Regions from separate parts of the Homo sapiens genome. Here all the other regions are reported to be linked to region 1. The links are microRNA targets in miRTarBase. Many come from high-throughput screens and were not tested one by one. Region 1 holds a microRNA gene; each other region holds the end of a gene's coding sequence.

Region 1 (5,176 bases):
ATGTGATGTACACTTTACCACAATAAAAAATAGAAAATTCAGGCCGGGCGCAGTGGCTCACGCTTGTAATCCCAGCACTTTGGGAGGCTGAGGCGGGCAGATCACGAGGTCAGGAGATGGAGGCCATCCTGGCCAACAGGGTGAAACCCCGTCTCTACTAAAAATACAAAAATTAGCTGGGCGTGGTGGCAGGCGCCTATAGTCCCAGCTACTCAGGAGGCTGAGGCAGGAGAATATCTTGAATCCGGGAGGCAGATGTTGCAGTGGGCCCAGATCACACCACTGTACTCCAGCCTGGCGACACAGCGAGACTCAGTCTCAAAAAAAAAAAAAAAAAAGAAAATTCAAACAAAAAAGCAGGAAATGCCACCCTCTCTGTGCTGTGGTGGCAGCAGGCGCTCTGGTGCCTCTTCCCTTTCTCCTGGGACCGAGGCGCAGAGCTGGCACATCCCTGCCTGTGTGCCCCACCCTGTGGGCACCTGCCCTGCCCACCACCGTGCCTCCAGCCACTTGTGGGTGTGGACACTGAGGCTGGGGCTCGCTGGGGTTCAGCCCTGCGCCCCCTCCACGAACTGGGTCCACAGATGGGGTGGGGTTACCGGCGGCCATGGGTGGTGGGAGCCCAGCTGAGGTGACCTGTCCTGAGAGTGGCCCCAACAGACTTCCGCTGCCCATCAGGGTTTGGCCCTGCCGGGCTCCTACCGGGGAGGCCCAGGCTTCTGGCTCCACTCCCTGCAGACCACACGGCCCCTGCCCCGGCCCACCCAAGGCTCTTGCGGACCTGCAGGTCCCCTCAGGAATAACCCAGTGGAACATGGTGCACAGCCAGCCGGAGGCCCAGAGCCCTCCCAGCCCGCGGGGGCCTCGCCCCGATTTCACAGAGATGGACACACAGCCTTAGTCTTAGTCACAGGCTCAGGTGTCTGTGGCAGATCCCAGTGTGAGTAAGTGGTGGGCAGGAATTCATGCCCAGGCCATGTGGCTTTAGAGCCGGGAGCCCTGACCCCTCCACTGTGTGTGGGAGCCACCGCGGCCACGGTCATCTTGGGGCCCTGACCCCACCTCTGTGAGTGGGAGCCGCTACAGCCACGATCATCTCGGGGTCCTGGCGTCCCCCACTGTGAGCAGGAGCCACCGCAGCCATGGTCATCTTGGGGTCTTGGCCCCTCCACTATGCGTGGGAGCCACTGTGGGCATGGTCGTCTCGGGGTCCTGGCATCCCCCACTGTGAGCAGGAGCCACCGCAGCCATGGTCATCTTGGGGTCTTGGCCCCCCCACTATGCGTGGGAGCCACTGTGGGCACGGTCATCTCGGGGTCCTGAACTGTGAGCGGGAGCCGCCACGGACACAGTCATCTCAGAGCCTAGATGCTATAGCCCAAGCCAGACCCTGCGGCCGCTGGCCTTCGCGAGGGTGGAGGTCACACATGGCTGCAGCCCTGGAGGGTCAGCTGGTTGGGAGCTCAGGGAGTCCGGCTCTTGTCTGAATTCTCAGTGCCCATCGCGGTCAGGGCGGAGTAAGTGGAGAGGAAAAGTCTGGTCTATCTATCATGGCTGCAGGGGAGCTGGGCTTTCCTCCTCCCGGCCCCCTCGCTCCTTCAGAAGGCAGCCTCTGGGCAGCCCAGTATGTAGTTGGCAAGGGCACACGGGGAAGGGAATGCCTGTCGCGGAGGCTGGACCCCACCGGGTGAGGTACTGGCATCTGAGCTGGGCCCTGGGTCAGTGCGTCACGCTGCGTCTCCCGCCCCTTCCTGGACGACCTCATCCCCTGCTCGGAGCTCCCACTGTGCGCTCGGCGAGGATGTGTTTCCCTATGCCACATCCTCACCTGTCACTCAGCGTCACCACCCGGCCCTCCACACCGTGCCACATCCTCACCTGTCACTCAGCGTCACCACCCGGCCCTCCACACCGTGCCACATCCTCACGTGTCACTCAGCGTCACCACCCGGCCCTCCACACCGTGCCACATCCTCACCTGTCACTCAGCGTCACCACCCGGCCCTCCACACCGTGCCACATCCTCACCTGTCACTCAGCGTCACCACCCGGCCCTCCACACCGTGCCACATCCTCACCTGTCACTCAGCGTCACCACCCGGCCCTCCACACCGTGCCACATCCTCACCTGTCACTCAGCGTCACCACCCGGCCCTCCACACCGTGCCACATCCTCACCTGTCACTGAGTGTCACCACCCGGCCCTCCACACCACCAGTCCCCCAACAACAGCCTCCCCAGTGGTTCTGCCACAGAGCACGTCAGACCCCTGTGTTCACTCTCCCTCGTTAGGCTGGGGTTCCATGAGGTCACCTGGGGTCCCTGGACCATGCCCAGCACACAGCAGGCACTCAGTACAGGTTTGGAGAGTACAGGGGACACCCGTGGGCATCCAGAGGCTGCCCGCCCCAACCCGTCCAGCAGCCCTGTCCCCAGGACAGGTGGGGTGGCCCTGACAGCAAGGACCCCGCAGGAGTGAGTCACAGCCCCAGCACAGGGACAAGGACCGTGGCTCTCCACAGGCGATGCTCCTACACGGGAGGGGCCTTTGCCCAGGACAATGCTGGCTCTGGAGGCCCTGGCTTTTTCTCCGTTTCCTTTTTCCTTCTGCTTGCTTTGCCTCTGGGGACACAGCCAGGCACAGGGAGCAGATCCAGAAATCAGCTGGGGAGTATTTATGGAGCACCTACTGTATGCCCCAAGCTGTCCTGGGAGAGGACAGAGCTGCCTGCATGTGTGGAGACCCCTCTGCAGACTGGGAGGGCTGCGTGGGGAGATCCTCTGGGCTGGGCACGCACCTCTGACCCTCACCACGTGAGAGGCACTGCACCCCACGTTAGGGGGTGGGGCCCTGGCCAAGGTGATGTCTGGTTCTGGTCGGACGGCCCCTCCCTACTTCCTCTCCTTAGATCTCAGCCCAGACTCTTTCTCTCCTCGCCCCGCCACTATTTTCCACTTACACATTTTTGACAAACACCCACACCTGTGGCTGATTTTCAGGTGCCGTGGGAGCTGACAGGGCCTCCAGCCAGGTCTCAGGCCGGCGGAGCCTGCCTCATCCTGGTCTTGCCAGCAAGACCCACTGTGCAGTGTGGGTGGATGCAGAACACAGGTGCATGCCCCCTAAGGTGTCCTAAGCCCCCTGTAGACATGGTCTCCTGGCACATGAATTTCTGACAATGGGAAATCTGGAAGACCCCAGGTTTCCAGGCTATGCCACAGCCACAGACAGGAGGACCCCCAGAGAACCTGCCACCTCAGCCTCATGGTGTGGAAGGGGAAACTGAGGCCCAGGCCGGCAAGGGGCTTGCTGAAGAGCCCAGAAACCATCCTGGGAGGCAGACCTACTAGACCGCCTTCCGGTTTTACAGATGGGGAGGCTGAGGGTGGGCAAAGGGGTTGGGACTGTCATTCATTAAGATGGTGCCACGTCCCTGGCCCGGCCGGCACTTCAGAAGCTTGGCAGAATGAGGTTCCGGATGGAAGTCAGCGCGGGGAGAGGGTGGAGCGGTGGGGGGCAGCCTGCAGGAGGGTCTGGAGTGGGCCCAGACATGGGGGTGGGAGGCTGGCTGGCCCCAGGGCCGTCCCTGCCGGGTTGTGAAACTCGCTGTTCCCATCTGGGAGTGGCTGCTGGCTGCACTCCTCTCGGGAACTCCTGGGTCCTGGTCCCCAACTGAGGCCACGTGGGTCTGGGCTCTGACGGTTGGCAGGTCATCCAGAGGCCAGCCTGTCCATCCGCCTGTGCCCAGACAGCGAGGCCCCTAAAAGGCGGGCCCTTCCAGAGCCGGTGGTGGTGGTGGCAGAGGTCTCCCGTCCTGGGGCAGGGTCCAGGATGGGAACTACTCCCCCAGGTCAAGGGCAGCCCCTGGAGGAGGCCCTGCCCCCACACAGCAGCTCAGCCAATCCCTGGGCCTCACCCCTGCTCATTTGCATACCCCATTTCCATTGGCTGCCAACAGGCTGGTTAGGACAGTGGTGCCCTGGCCATGGGGGTGGGGCTCTGGGGGGCGGGGCCCTGGGGGTATCAGATTCTGGGTGACTGGTCCCAGCCCCAAGTCTAGGGTCAGAAAGCTGCATGGGGCTGGTGGGGGGCTTCAGTTACAGTGCAGGCTCTCCCCTTTCCTCGAAGGCTCCCTGACATCCATTCAGGGATGACTCTGAGTGGGAAAGATACTGGTCCAAGGTCGTACAGCCAAGAGGCCGGCACAGCTGGGACCTGGCCCCAAGTCCCAACCCCTCTCCAAGGCCGGCCTCTTTTCTCCTGTGGGGGCCTGTTGAGAGCGACTTCTTATTTTTGGCTGCCTTGTTTCAGGGAGGGCTATTTGGGGGCTTTCTTTGCAAAATGATGATGATGATGACTTTCAGAGCACCCCGAGTGCTCAGCTCTCCCTCTAGATCTGGTGGCTCTGTGCGCCGCAGGCAGTGGGCTCGCGGGTGCGTCGGGACGGTGGGCTCGCGGGTGCTTGAGGGGCGGTGGGCTCGCGGGTGCTTGAGGGGCGGTGGGCTCGCGGGTGCGTCAGGGCCTGTGGGCTCGCGGGTGGGTCAGGGGCAGTGGGCTCGCGGGTGCGTGAGGGGCGGTGGGCTCGCAGGTGCGTCAGCGGCCGGTGGGCTCGCGGGTGGGTCGGGGCGGTGGGCTCGCGGGGGCGTGAGGGGCGGTGGGCTCGCGGGTGTGTGAGGGGCGGTGGGGGGCTCGCGGGTGTGCGGGTTGAGAGTGTGTTCTCACTTTTGTTCCTGGCATTAGGGTGGGGTGAGATAAGGGGAAGGGGGGCCGCTCAGCTCGAGCAAGCAGATAGATAACGGCGATAGCACCTCCTCCACCGCACAGCACGCATCGCCCTTTTTTATCAAGTTCTCTTTTCTTCTTTTTCGTTGTAGGGTGGTAGAGTAGAAAACACCCCACCCCCACCTCCCAAAGCCATGGAACTAGGGGGTGGGGGCCTCCCCATCTCAGGTCCCAGCCACAAAGGGCACGGGTCAGCTTAGGGCCCGCTGTGCCCAACACGCCCAGCAGCCAGCCCAGAGCCCGTGACTGGAGGAGGGAGGGGATCCAAGGCAGCTGCGAGGCCCGGGGTCCGGAGGTCCCAGCATGACAGGAGCAGCTGCGCATGTGCCCTGCAAGGCAGGTCTCGCGGTCTACACCATCAGCTCCTTGAAAGGACTCTGAGAGGGCGACTGG
Region 2 (5,000 bases), not on the chromosome of region 1:
AACTCCCACTTATGAGTGAGAACATGTGGTGTTTAGTTTTCTGTTCCTTTGTTAGTTTGCTGAGAATGATGGCTTCCAGCTTCATCCATGTCCCTGCAAAGGACATGATCTCATTCCTTTTTCCCATGAGATATTTTTACATCCTCTTTTTGTCCTAAGTCTTCGGAATCTGCATTTACACTGACAGCACATTTTAAGTGGTTCACAGCAAGTGCCTTGTGGCAGTGTCTCCTGTGTTGGACAGGCCTCCACGGGGCAGGAGCTGTGTTTCTGCACTGGCATTTCCTGCCTATACAGAAACACACAGCACCCTCTGCTGATTTTGGGGACTGTGGCCTTCAGGTCAGTCTTGCAGTCTGTTTTGTTTTGCTTCCCCTGGACATGTCTGCCTCCCCACAGGACTGTGGTCTGGAGCTCAATGATGAAGATGGCCACCGCTGTTATCCGCTGGAGGACCACCTGTTCTGTCACTCCTGCCACGTGAAGAGGCTGGAGAAGAGACCCTCATCTACAGCCCTTCACCAGCACCACTTCTAGCCAGAGCCACTTGCAGACATCACGGCAGGGGATGAGGAGCCGGGGTTGCTGCTGCTGCTTCCGGTGGCCCCTGGGGTGGAAGTGGGGTAGGGGAAGAGGAGGGGCAGGAGGGAGAGTTCCTGTGAGCATGTGGGGGGTGCCTTTCCTTTAACCAGGGAGGTGAACACTACCTGCCTCCTGCGTGTATTTTCCAAGTGCTTTTCTCTGTTGCCACATTTTCCTCAGGTTACTCAGGAAAATGCTCCAGCATGTGCGAGCACATGACCTGAGGTTGCATCATAGCACCAAAGGAATCCTCCTGTCCCCTCTGGGAACATTTCATGCTTCAGAGGGAGAGGTTTTTATTGAGCTTGTTTCACAATATCCCCTTGAAGGGACAGCTCAGCTGCCAATACATTCAACCCTTTCTCTTCCTTCAGGAAAATACCTATACCCAAATGTTCCCTCCCCCGACATATATCATGGCATGATTTAAGGCTTCTTTTCACCTGAGAGCTTCAGTTCTTCTGCAGAATGGCTGCAAATTTAATTGCATTAAGGCAAGAAGGAAGCTCTAATGTGTGCTTTGTATCCTAAGATAAATTTGCTTAGAAAACCAGAGTCAAGATTTGAAATAGGTGAGGCAGGGTTTCCTCCTTAGACACTGACAGCATTCTCTGTACCCCTTCAAATCCTTACTCTCCTAAAGGCAGCTGAGTCCGCGACAGAAATTTGCCCTATGTGAGTAAAACATACTTTGGGAGAAGAACTTGGTGCAGGCACCAGGATTTTTTTTTTTGCCCACGTGTTTGCGCTGTTTTTCTCTGGAGTTCTCAAGAGTTGGTGACTTGGAAGGCCGCTTCTGCAAGGCAAGTCTCAGGAACCCATGCAGGTACATCGCTTGCACCTGTTTTTAGCTTATTTAATGACGGGCTTTTGGGAAGAGCTGCCCGCATACTGAGAGACAGCTTCTTATAAACAAGGAGAGTTTTTGTGTGTGCGAGATCTCTAAGCCAGCGTGGGAGGGAGCGCCTCAGGATAAGTTATTATATTCATTTCGTTGGTTTCTCTCCTGCCCAATTCTTGGCACAGGCATTATGTTTGAAGAAACCAGGATAAGGTACACTGCTTTTGTCTGTTTAATTTTTTTAGTTGTTTCCCTTCACTTTCAGTCTTCCACACACAAAAAATACCTCACAGAGCTTCACCAAATCACAGATTCAGGAGGAATTTGGCTTTCACACTGGACTCAGATACCTTCTTCAGTGTGTTGGAAATCACTGGCTTCACACAGGCCCAACTCCAGCTGGTCAGGGCAGAGTGATCGTAACTAAAGGTCAGTGGGGAATAGATCCGATTCAGTGCTTTTGCCTTATGCATTTCAGCATCCTGGCTCCCCAGGGTGGCAGGAGCTGAGGGAGGGCCACACACTGGCAAGATTTCAAGACCACTCTCTGCACTGAAGAGGTAAAATTTGCACTGCAAGTCACATCCCTGAGGCCAGAGGTCAGTACCCTTTGGTATTTCGATTAGAAGAAGCTGCAAAAGAAAGGCAGCCCATTTTACCATTGCCAGCCAGGCCGGGGACACAGGAGCCGGTGTGTGCACTCTGCCTCCTCACCTTGCACCCAGAGCAAGAGGACTGGGTGCTGGGCTGCAGAGGCCGGTCAGTGGAGCCCCTAGCACGTGTGAACTCAGGCTTTTCATTGGGCCCGGCTCCACTTCTAGGCCATGTTTTGACTCATTTGGTAACCATTGCCTGTAAGCAGCACAGAATTGGTGCCATGGATTATCTTTTCCATGTTGATGGAATTCATTCTGTTGGAATCCTTTGGCCAGATGTCACTTCAGCCAGGGTGTGCATCATCATTGGTTCTTTTTCACAGGCTGAGCCTCCTGAAAACCCATGAACGCTGGGGCTGGGGAAGTGAACCCTGAGGTGGGGACCCTCTCTTCCCATCAAATCATCCAGCTCAGTGTGGGGCGTGGCAGGGGGGTAAATGAAGCCAGCCAATGTGTTAACCTGTCTCTGTCAACCTAAGAATGTTGGCCTTACTGACACACCTTTGCTCCATGTTCAAGACCAGAAGTAGCTGGGATTTGTTTGCAAATTGGGTAATTAGTTTAAAAATCTGTGATTACATTTTTAAATGAAATTTTCAAAGTGGCCTAGATTGAGGTGATTCAGATAGGTTTGCGAATATACCATTTTATATTGTTGAGAAAGAACAAAAAGGGAATTTCCAGATGTCCTAGAAATCCTAGCAACAGATTTCTCTGGTTGTCAGTTTCCCTGGAGAAGGCGCCAGATAGGAATCTCCAATCAGTTGTTTTTCTCTTCGCTTCAGGCCCTTACACAAAAGCCATGAAGAGATGTTCACCTACCCGGTATTTTAAATGTTCTGTAAATTATTAGCCAAATAGAACTGTAATGGGGTTGTATTTATGGGCGCCTAGAAAGAAAACACAAGGACTTGGTAGGCCAGGAAGAAAAGATTTTAAAATTTAGAATGAATAGCCCTTCTGGGTTTTCTTTTTGACAATTCTTGGACTTGAGGTAAAACAAGGAGGATTGTGGCCGGATTTCAGATCCCAAAGCCAGCCTCCATCTTAGGCCTTTGCCTCATTGTGCCTTTTAGGTTTTCTTACCCACCGTCTCCTGTTTTGTCTTTTTTTTCTTTTCTCCTACCCCTATCTTGGGACATTCAGAAACTGCCTGGGTGGTTTGAGAAGAGACAACCCAGTTTGATCTGCAATACAAGGATCCATTCGTAATCTCTCTCTCACTGATGTTATTCCCCCATCTGCCGTCTTGGTTCATCTCACCACAGAAGGGCATTTAGTCCTACCCAGCCATCGGCTGCGTATGACAGCAGGATGGCACTTCCCATTTCTCTGTGGTTAGTGCTCGAGTGAAAACCTCTTTCAGCTGAGTCCTCTGAGGTTCTGCTGTTGAGTCCTGGGTGGCTGATGGAATGATTGAGGAGGTCTGGTCACCCTCAAGCGCCGTCATCGCCTTGTTTCCATGGGCTTCTGTCACACAAAATGAAGAACAGAAATGTTAGGACTTAAGAGAATGTTTGGAATTCACACCTCTTTGCAGTCCTTTCAAGGCTGCTGCTCTGTGCTGTGTCCCATGCATGTGAAAGTAGAGCTGTGATGGCTGCTGGGACGCTTGCAAAGATCATGTGTGAGAATTGAGCACAAGACCACAAATTATTACTGCTTGATGCGCTTGTTAAAACTCTATCTGCCAGGAAACCAAATTTTCTTTTCTTTTCTTTTTTTTTTTGAGACAGGGCCTCACTCTGTTGCCCAGGCTGGAGTGCAGTGGCGCGATCTCAGCTCACTGCAGCCTCCACCTACTGGGCTCAAGTGATCCTCCCACCTCAGCCTCCCGAGTAGCCGGGACCACAGGCGTGTATGACTGGCTACGCCTGGCTAATTTTTGTATTTTTAATAGAGACGAGTTTCACCATGTTGCCCAGGATGGTCTGGAACTCCTGGGCTCAAGTGATCTGCCCACTTCCGCCTCCCAAAGTGTTGGGATTATGGCCATTAGCCACTGTACCTGGCACAATTTTTTTTTGTACCCTCCTTTATGCCAAGAATCAGTCCTAATTTCTTTACTATGTGAAGTAACTTTTAAAGGTAATAGAAAAGGCCAGGCACAGTGGCTCATGCCTGTAATCCCAGGCGCCGTGGCTCACGCCTGTAATCCCAGCACTTTGAGAGGCTGAGGCGGGTGGATCACTTAAGGTCAGGAGTTAGAGACCAGCCTGACCAACATGGTGAAACACTGTCTCTACTAAAAATACAAAATTAGCTGGGTTTGGTGGCGCACGCCTGTAATCCCAGCTACCTGAGAGGTTGAGGCAGGAGAATCGCTTGAACCTGGGAGGCAGAGGTTGCAGTGAGCCGAGATGGTGCCATTGCACTCCGACCTGGGCAACAGAGCGAAACACTGTCTCAAAAAAAAAAAAAAAAGTAACAGAAAAAAGAGTGAAATATATTAGCTATCTTTTATTCTGAGCCAAAACTTGACAGATGTGGGAAATCTTCATATAGTGTATGAAAATTTCATTGTACAGGGAAATTATTTTCCTCTGTGTCTTTTCTTTTACTATAAAGTGATTCAGAATTTTACTGTTACTATAAAATTATGCAAAGTATTGTGACAAAACTGCATCAATTTGTTGACTATTAAAGTGCTCCTTGAACATTATATTTCCTGGGTCTTTTCTGTGTGTGGAGTCAGCAAACTGTTTTTTGCTACCTGGACTTTGTCTTCTTTTACAGCTCTGGATTCTTAAAAGTACCACATAGGTAGCAAACCTGTGAAGGGTATGAGATTTTACCCTACTTGCAGGCTAATAAAGTGAGCACACCACATGGGTTCATGGATCCTGGCAGAAGTTATGAGACTCATAGGTCAGAGACAAAGGACAGTTTATTATAGCAATAGCAGTGGCCAGATTATCAGC
Region 3 (5,000 bases), not on the chromosome of region 1:
CAAAAACTTACAAAGTGCATTTGGAAAACAATAGGTTTTAAAAATCTGTATTGGCATTTTTTCAAGAGGAAACATCTTCCATCACAGGAAAGTATGGTTGGAATTGATTTCCCTCCTCCCTTAAGAGCTAACAGGGTGGGAATGGATGCAAATACCTTGATATTAAAGTGAGCTCTCAGGTATCTTTTAATTTTTTTTGCAGAGACAGAGTCTTGCTACATTGCCCAGGCTGGTCTCAAACTCCTGGCCTCAAACGATCCGCCTGCCTTGGTCTCCCAAAGTGCTAAGATTACAGGCGTGAGCCACTGCACCCAGCCCTATTGTCATGGTTTTTCATATTTTTTCAGTGAAATGAAAAGTTTTGAGTGGTTACTTAAAAGGACCAAAAAGGAAAGATTCATTATAATAAGACAATAGTTGAGGGGGCATAACTTCCCCTAAGAGGTAACATTTGGATCCAGAAGTAGAAAATTCCTTCTGACCTCCTGGCTGTGACTAGCATTAACAAGTAACTAACTGTTAGCCTCTGAATCTGGTAACTGGTCCGTAAGGAGGACAGCAAAAAAGGAGAGAAAGCCAAGGTGGTTAAACAAAAAAGTTAAATGACATGGAGCTGAAAGAGCTCAAATCCCTTCATGGGATCCCCACGGAGCCCCTTCCTGTGGACACACACCTCTCTTCCCTTGCTGGAGGTTTCTTTCTGCAAAGAAACCCTAAGAGGAAAAAGCACTGGCCTAGCTGTCTACATGTGGCCCTGGGTCACCTTAGTATAGGCTGCAGCACGGAGAGGTTAGTCAGACCTATCTGACACCAACATCCATACCAAGCCTTTTAACTTCCTTGGAAGAACTGGTTTATTTTCATAAAGAAAATAACCAACATAATTCCATTACTTCACATAAGCAAAACCCTAATGGAAAGGCCCATCAGCCATCAACAGGGTTTGCTTGGCTGCAGTGAGCTAGACTAGCTTGTGTCCCAGTTCACTCTCACACAATCAGCTTTAATGAATGCACAAAAGAATCAGACCAGTAAAAAAGACTGGTAGTATAATTAAATAAATAACTTTATTTATGATACTTCAGATTTTATAAATGCCAACTACATAGCAAAGTCCCATAAATTTTAACCGAGACACAACCACCAATCAAGGCCCTTTGAAAAATCAAAGATAATAAAGTGTCAAGGGAGAAAAGTTTTGTTCTCCCAACAGAGAATTTAATCAATGAACTTACTTCTCTGATCATTTAAGGTTCACAATGGGAAAACTTCTTTTCTTTTAAGGGTACCCTGAATCAATTAACAGTCAATCAACCCACATTTAGAAAAATAAACCCCATAGTTAAGAAAAATATATCAAATGCCCTTCACACCCATAATGTAACAAAACTTTGACACCAGAATGAAAAACTTCTCAGTCTCTGTACCAAACCAGGTGTTAGTCCACCCATGAGCAAGTTCGCCTGAATAACAGCATCTATACACCATGATGTAGCTGAGAACTACAGCTGATATCCTTTTATTGCCTGTGGCTCGGACTGAAGCCAATACTATAAATACCACAGTGAATTCCAATGGTGAAGAGCAGCAGTGTAGATGTTGGAAGTCTACAAACCAGGCTGTAGTTCAGTAAGACAAGTCATGAATTTACAGAAACTAAGAAATGGTTAACTCGAAAAGAATTCTGGTGGCTGGCTTAAAATCTGTCACTGTCCAGGGATGGTAACAGAAGACAGGTGCAGAGAGAGACAGATTCTGCCACATGCACCCTCAACAGTGAAACCATTCTCTGGATGTTTGGAAATGCTTAACAGATTTGGAATGAACAGATTTTCACAGAACTCAGGATTCCTGGTACATCAGGCAGTAGTCCTTAAACTTTTGCCCATACGTTGTGGAGCATTTACAAAAGCAATTCTCTGGACAGTGAGCCCTCAATGCCTTTTTATATGTGGCTTCTTGAATAGATCACATTAGAAATTGAGCAGTCCCCTTCCTCAGCTACCAGTGTCAATGCTGGTATGAGGAGGAGCAGTGGGGGCACTGACAGACACTGGTGATTCGTTTCTTTTATCATAGTGGAACTGAGATTTCATTTCTTTTCAGTAGAAAATATTAATCCAAGGGAAGAATTAAAAAAAAAATGGAAACAATGACTGGTGCCTTAAATATAAGACTGTCATTCTTGATGTTTTTCCAGCAATACAGTTAACCCCAGTGTACTTGTAATTTAAAAGAAAAAGACAGTTTTACAGTGATCTCCATTTCAGACAACCTCAAACATGCTGAAGCTGGTCCATCAGCATCTCAAAGAATCTATGAAAAACAGAATTTTCCCCAAATATCAACAGAGTTGAGGAGACAGAGTAGAAATCTATAGCACAGATCATCAAGAAAGAACTTGTGATTTCTCATTATGAGTGTAAAATAAGAGGACAAGAATTATTATTATATTATTTTTTTTTTAATTGATCATTCTTGGGTGTTTCTCGCAGAGGGGGATTTGGCAGGGTCATAGGACAATAGTGGAGGGAAGGTCAGCAGATCAACAAGTGAACAAAGGTCTCTGGTTTTCCTAGGCAGAGGACCCTGCCGCCTTCCGCAGTGTTTGTGTCCCTGGGTACTTGAGATTAGGGAGTGGTGATGACTCTTAAGGAGCATGCTGCCTTCAAGCATCTGTTTAACAAAGCACATCTTGCACCACCCTTAATCCATTTAACCCTGAGTGGACACAGCACATGTTTCAGAGAGCACCAGGTTGGGGGTAAGGTCATAGATCAACAGGATCCCAAGGCAGAAGAATTTTTCTTAGTACAGAACAAAATGAAAAGTCTCCCATGTCTACTTCTTTCTACACAGACACGGCAACCATCCAATTTCTCAATCTTTTCCCCACCTTTCCGCCTTTTCTATTCCACAAAACCGCCATTGTCATCATGGCCCGTTCTCAATGAGCTGCTGGGCACACCTCCCAGATGGGGTGGTGGCCAGGCAGAGGGGCTCCTCACTTCCCAGTAGGGGCGGCCGGGCAGGGGCGGCCGGGCAGAGGCGCCCCCCACCTCCCTCCCGGACGGGGCGGCTGGCCGGGCGGGGGGCTGATCCCCCCCACCTCCCTCCCGGACGGGGCGGCTGGCCGGGCGGGGGGCTGACCCCCCCACCTCCCTCCCGGACGGGGCAGCTGCCCGGGCGTAGACGCTCCTCACTTCCCAGATGGGGTGGCTGCCGGGCGGAGGGGCTCCTCACTTCTCAGACAGGGCGGCTGCCGGGCGGAGGTCTCCTCACTTCTCAGACGGGGTGGCCAGACAGAGACGCTCCTCACCTCCCAGACGGGGTCGCGGCCGGGCAGAGGAGCTCCTCACATCCCAGACGGGGCGGCGGGGCAGAGGCGCTCCCCACATCTCAGACGATGGGCGGCCGGGCAGAGACGCTCCTCACTTCCTAGATGGGATGGCGGCTGGGAAGAGGCGCTCCTCACTTCCTAGATGGGATGGCGGCCGGGCAGAGGCGCTCCTCACTTTCCAGACGGGGTGGCGGCCGGGCAGAGGCTGCAATCTCGGCACTTTGGGAGGCCAAGGCAGGTGGCTGGGAGGTGGAGGTTGTAGTGAGCCGAGATCACGCCACTGCACTCCAGCCTGGGCACCATTGAGCACTGAGTGAACGAGACTCCGTCTGCAATCCCGGCACCTCGGGAGGCCGAGGCAGTCAGGCGTGGCGGCGCTCGCCTGCAATTGCAGGCACTCGGCAGGCTGAGGCAGGAGAATCAGGCAGGGAGGTTGCAGTGAGCCGAGATGGCAGCAGTACAGTCCAGCTTCGGCTCGGCATCAGAGGGAGACCGTGGAAAGAGGGAGACCGTGGGGAGAGGGAGAGGGAGAGGGAAGAATTATTTTTATTCACAATCCAATCTGGCAGCTAAAAGAAAAGCAGTCTTTGGATGTAGAAACCTGGTTTTCTGAAGAGCCCAGCTGTAAGACCTGGCTTGTCATTAGGCTTCAACACTATCATGGAAACACAGAAAACTCTGTTTTTGATTGGTTTACCTGCCTCCTAGGGAGACAAAAGCAACTGAAAACCTTTTTTTTTTTTTTTTAATTAAAAACAGAAAAATGTGTTAGAAAACACAGCACAGAGAAACTGTGGCTTCAGCTCAACCTGACCATGTCACAGAGTCCATCACTGTCAGTCTTGCATTCATCCTGCTGGTCAGGCTAATTATCAAGACAGTCAACTTCTCCCTCCGATGTTTCCTTATTCCAGACCAGGGTGTGAAAGCGGTGGCTGTCAAGAGTCCCTGAAGATGTCCCATCAATGGAACGCATACAGCAGCAACAGGATGGTACAGATCCCAATAACACCCCCTAGGATGAGCGAGTCCCGCCGCTTCCTCAGGTTGATCCTCTGGATCAGGCTGTTTACAGCAGGAAAACGATCTTTGGGAAATCTTTATTAAGGTCATATTTGGAAGAAGCCTCTCTGGCGAAAAGTCGTAGGAATCACAAAAATAGAGATCAGTGGTGTCTAGAAACAGTGATGAAAGGCATGGGGAAGAAACTCACACCAAGGGAATCTTTAGCAGATGCAGTTGCCCAAACCGGGAACGCGCTGCGGCTCAAGGCCCCTAACCAATACACATCTCCCAGTCTTGTGTGTAACACAAATAAGAATAGTAATAGAGAGAGAGGGAGAAGAAAAGGACGATGACAGTTCCCAAGCACTGAGGGCTTACTGCCAGGCTTCAGGTCAGGGTGGGAGCCAGCGTGGCCAGGAATGGAGGAACTCTGGCAGGGAGGCACAGGCATAGCCAGCTCCCATCGCCACCACCACCCATTTCCCTCCCTTTCCTCATTTTCCTTCTCTTTTCCTCTTCTCTCAGGAGACTGGGGAGTTCTGCCTGAGAGTTTGAAGAAATACCTGATCTTTTCCCGCCTTAGATTCAGGCAATTCATGGGAACCAACTCTAAGGTCTATATAATCAGACACTGGTGAATTATTAATATTTTCAA

Evidence for each region. The annotated mature microRNA hsa-miR-5189-5p reads UCUGGGCACAGGCGGAUGGACAGG and lies in region 1 at 3,727-3,750, opposite strand. An mRNA with a match to its seed (bases 2 to 7 or 8) in the 3' UTR can be bound and repressed. Matches are read on the target gene's strand: a 7mer-m8 pairs with bases 2 to 8, a 7mer-A1 pairs with bases 2 to 7 and ends in A, and an 8mer does both.
Region 2: the mRNA of LIMD1 is a reported target of hsa-miR-5189-5p. Seed matches in the 3' UTR shown: 7mer-m8 at 3,829-3,835 and 7mer-m8 at 3,998-4,004.
Region 3: miRTarBase lists GOSR1 as a target of hsa-miR-5189-5p. Seed matches in the 3' UTR shown: 7mer-m8 at 3,633-3,639 and 7mer-m8 at 2,959-2,965.

What each region holds. Positions count from the first base shown.
Region 1 is chr16:88,467,517-88,472,692 of GRCh38, reverse strand. MIR5189 (microRNA 5189) reads right to left here and starts at 3,775; the gene lies at 3,662-3,775. All of the region lies in intron 1 of ZFPM1 (zinc finger protein, FOG family member 1), which reads right to left.
Region 2 is chr3:45,676,523-45,681,522 of GRCh38, forward strand. LIMD1 (LIM domain containing 1) reads left to right here. Exons shown (of 8, transcript NM_014240.3): 8 at 400-5,000. The coding sequence ends at 537. It overlaps LIMD1-AS1 (LIMD1 antisense RNA 1), which reads right to left. Exons shown (of 3, transcript NR_033947.1): 2 at 2,524-3,549; 3 at 1,643-2,409. Among named protein-coding and RNA genes, the nearest start is that of LIMD1-AS1, 9.9 kb to the right of the region's middle.
Region 3 is chr17:30,521,681-30,526,680 of GRCh38, reverse strand. GOSR1 (golgi SNAP receptor complex member 1) reads right to left here. Exons shown (of 9, transcript NM_001007025.2): 9 at 1-4,427. The coding sequence ends at 4,303. Among named protein-coding and RNA genes, the nearest start is that of GOSR1, 47 kb to the right of the region's middle.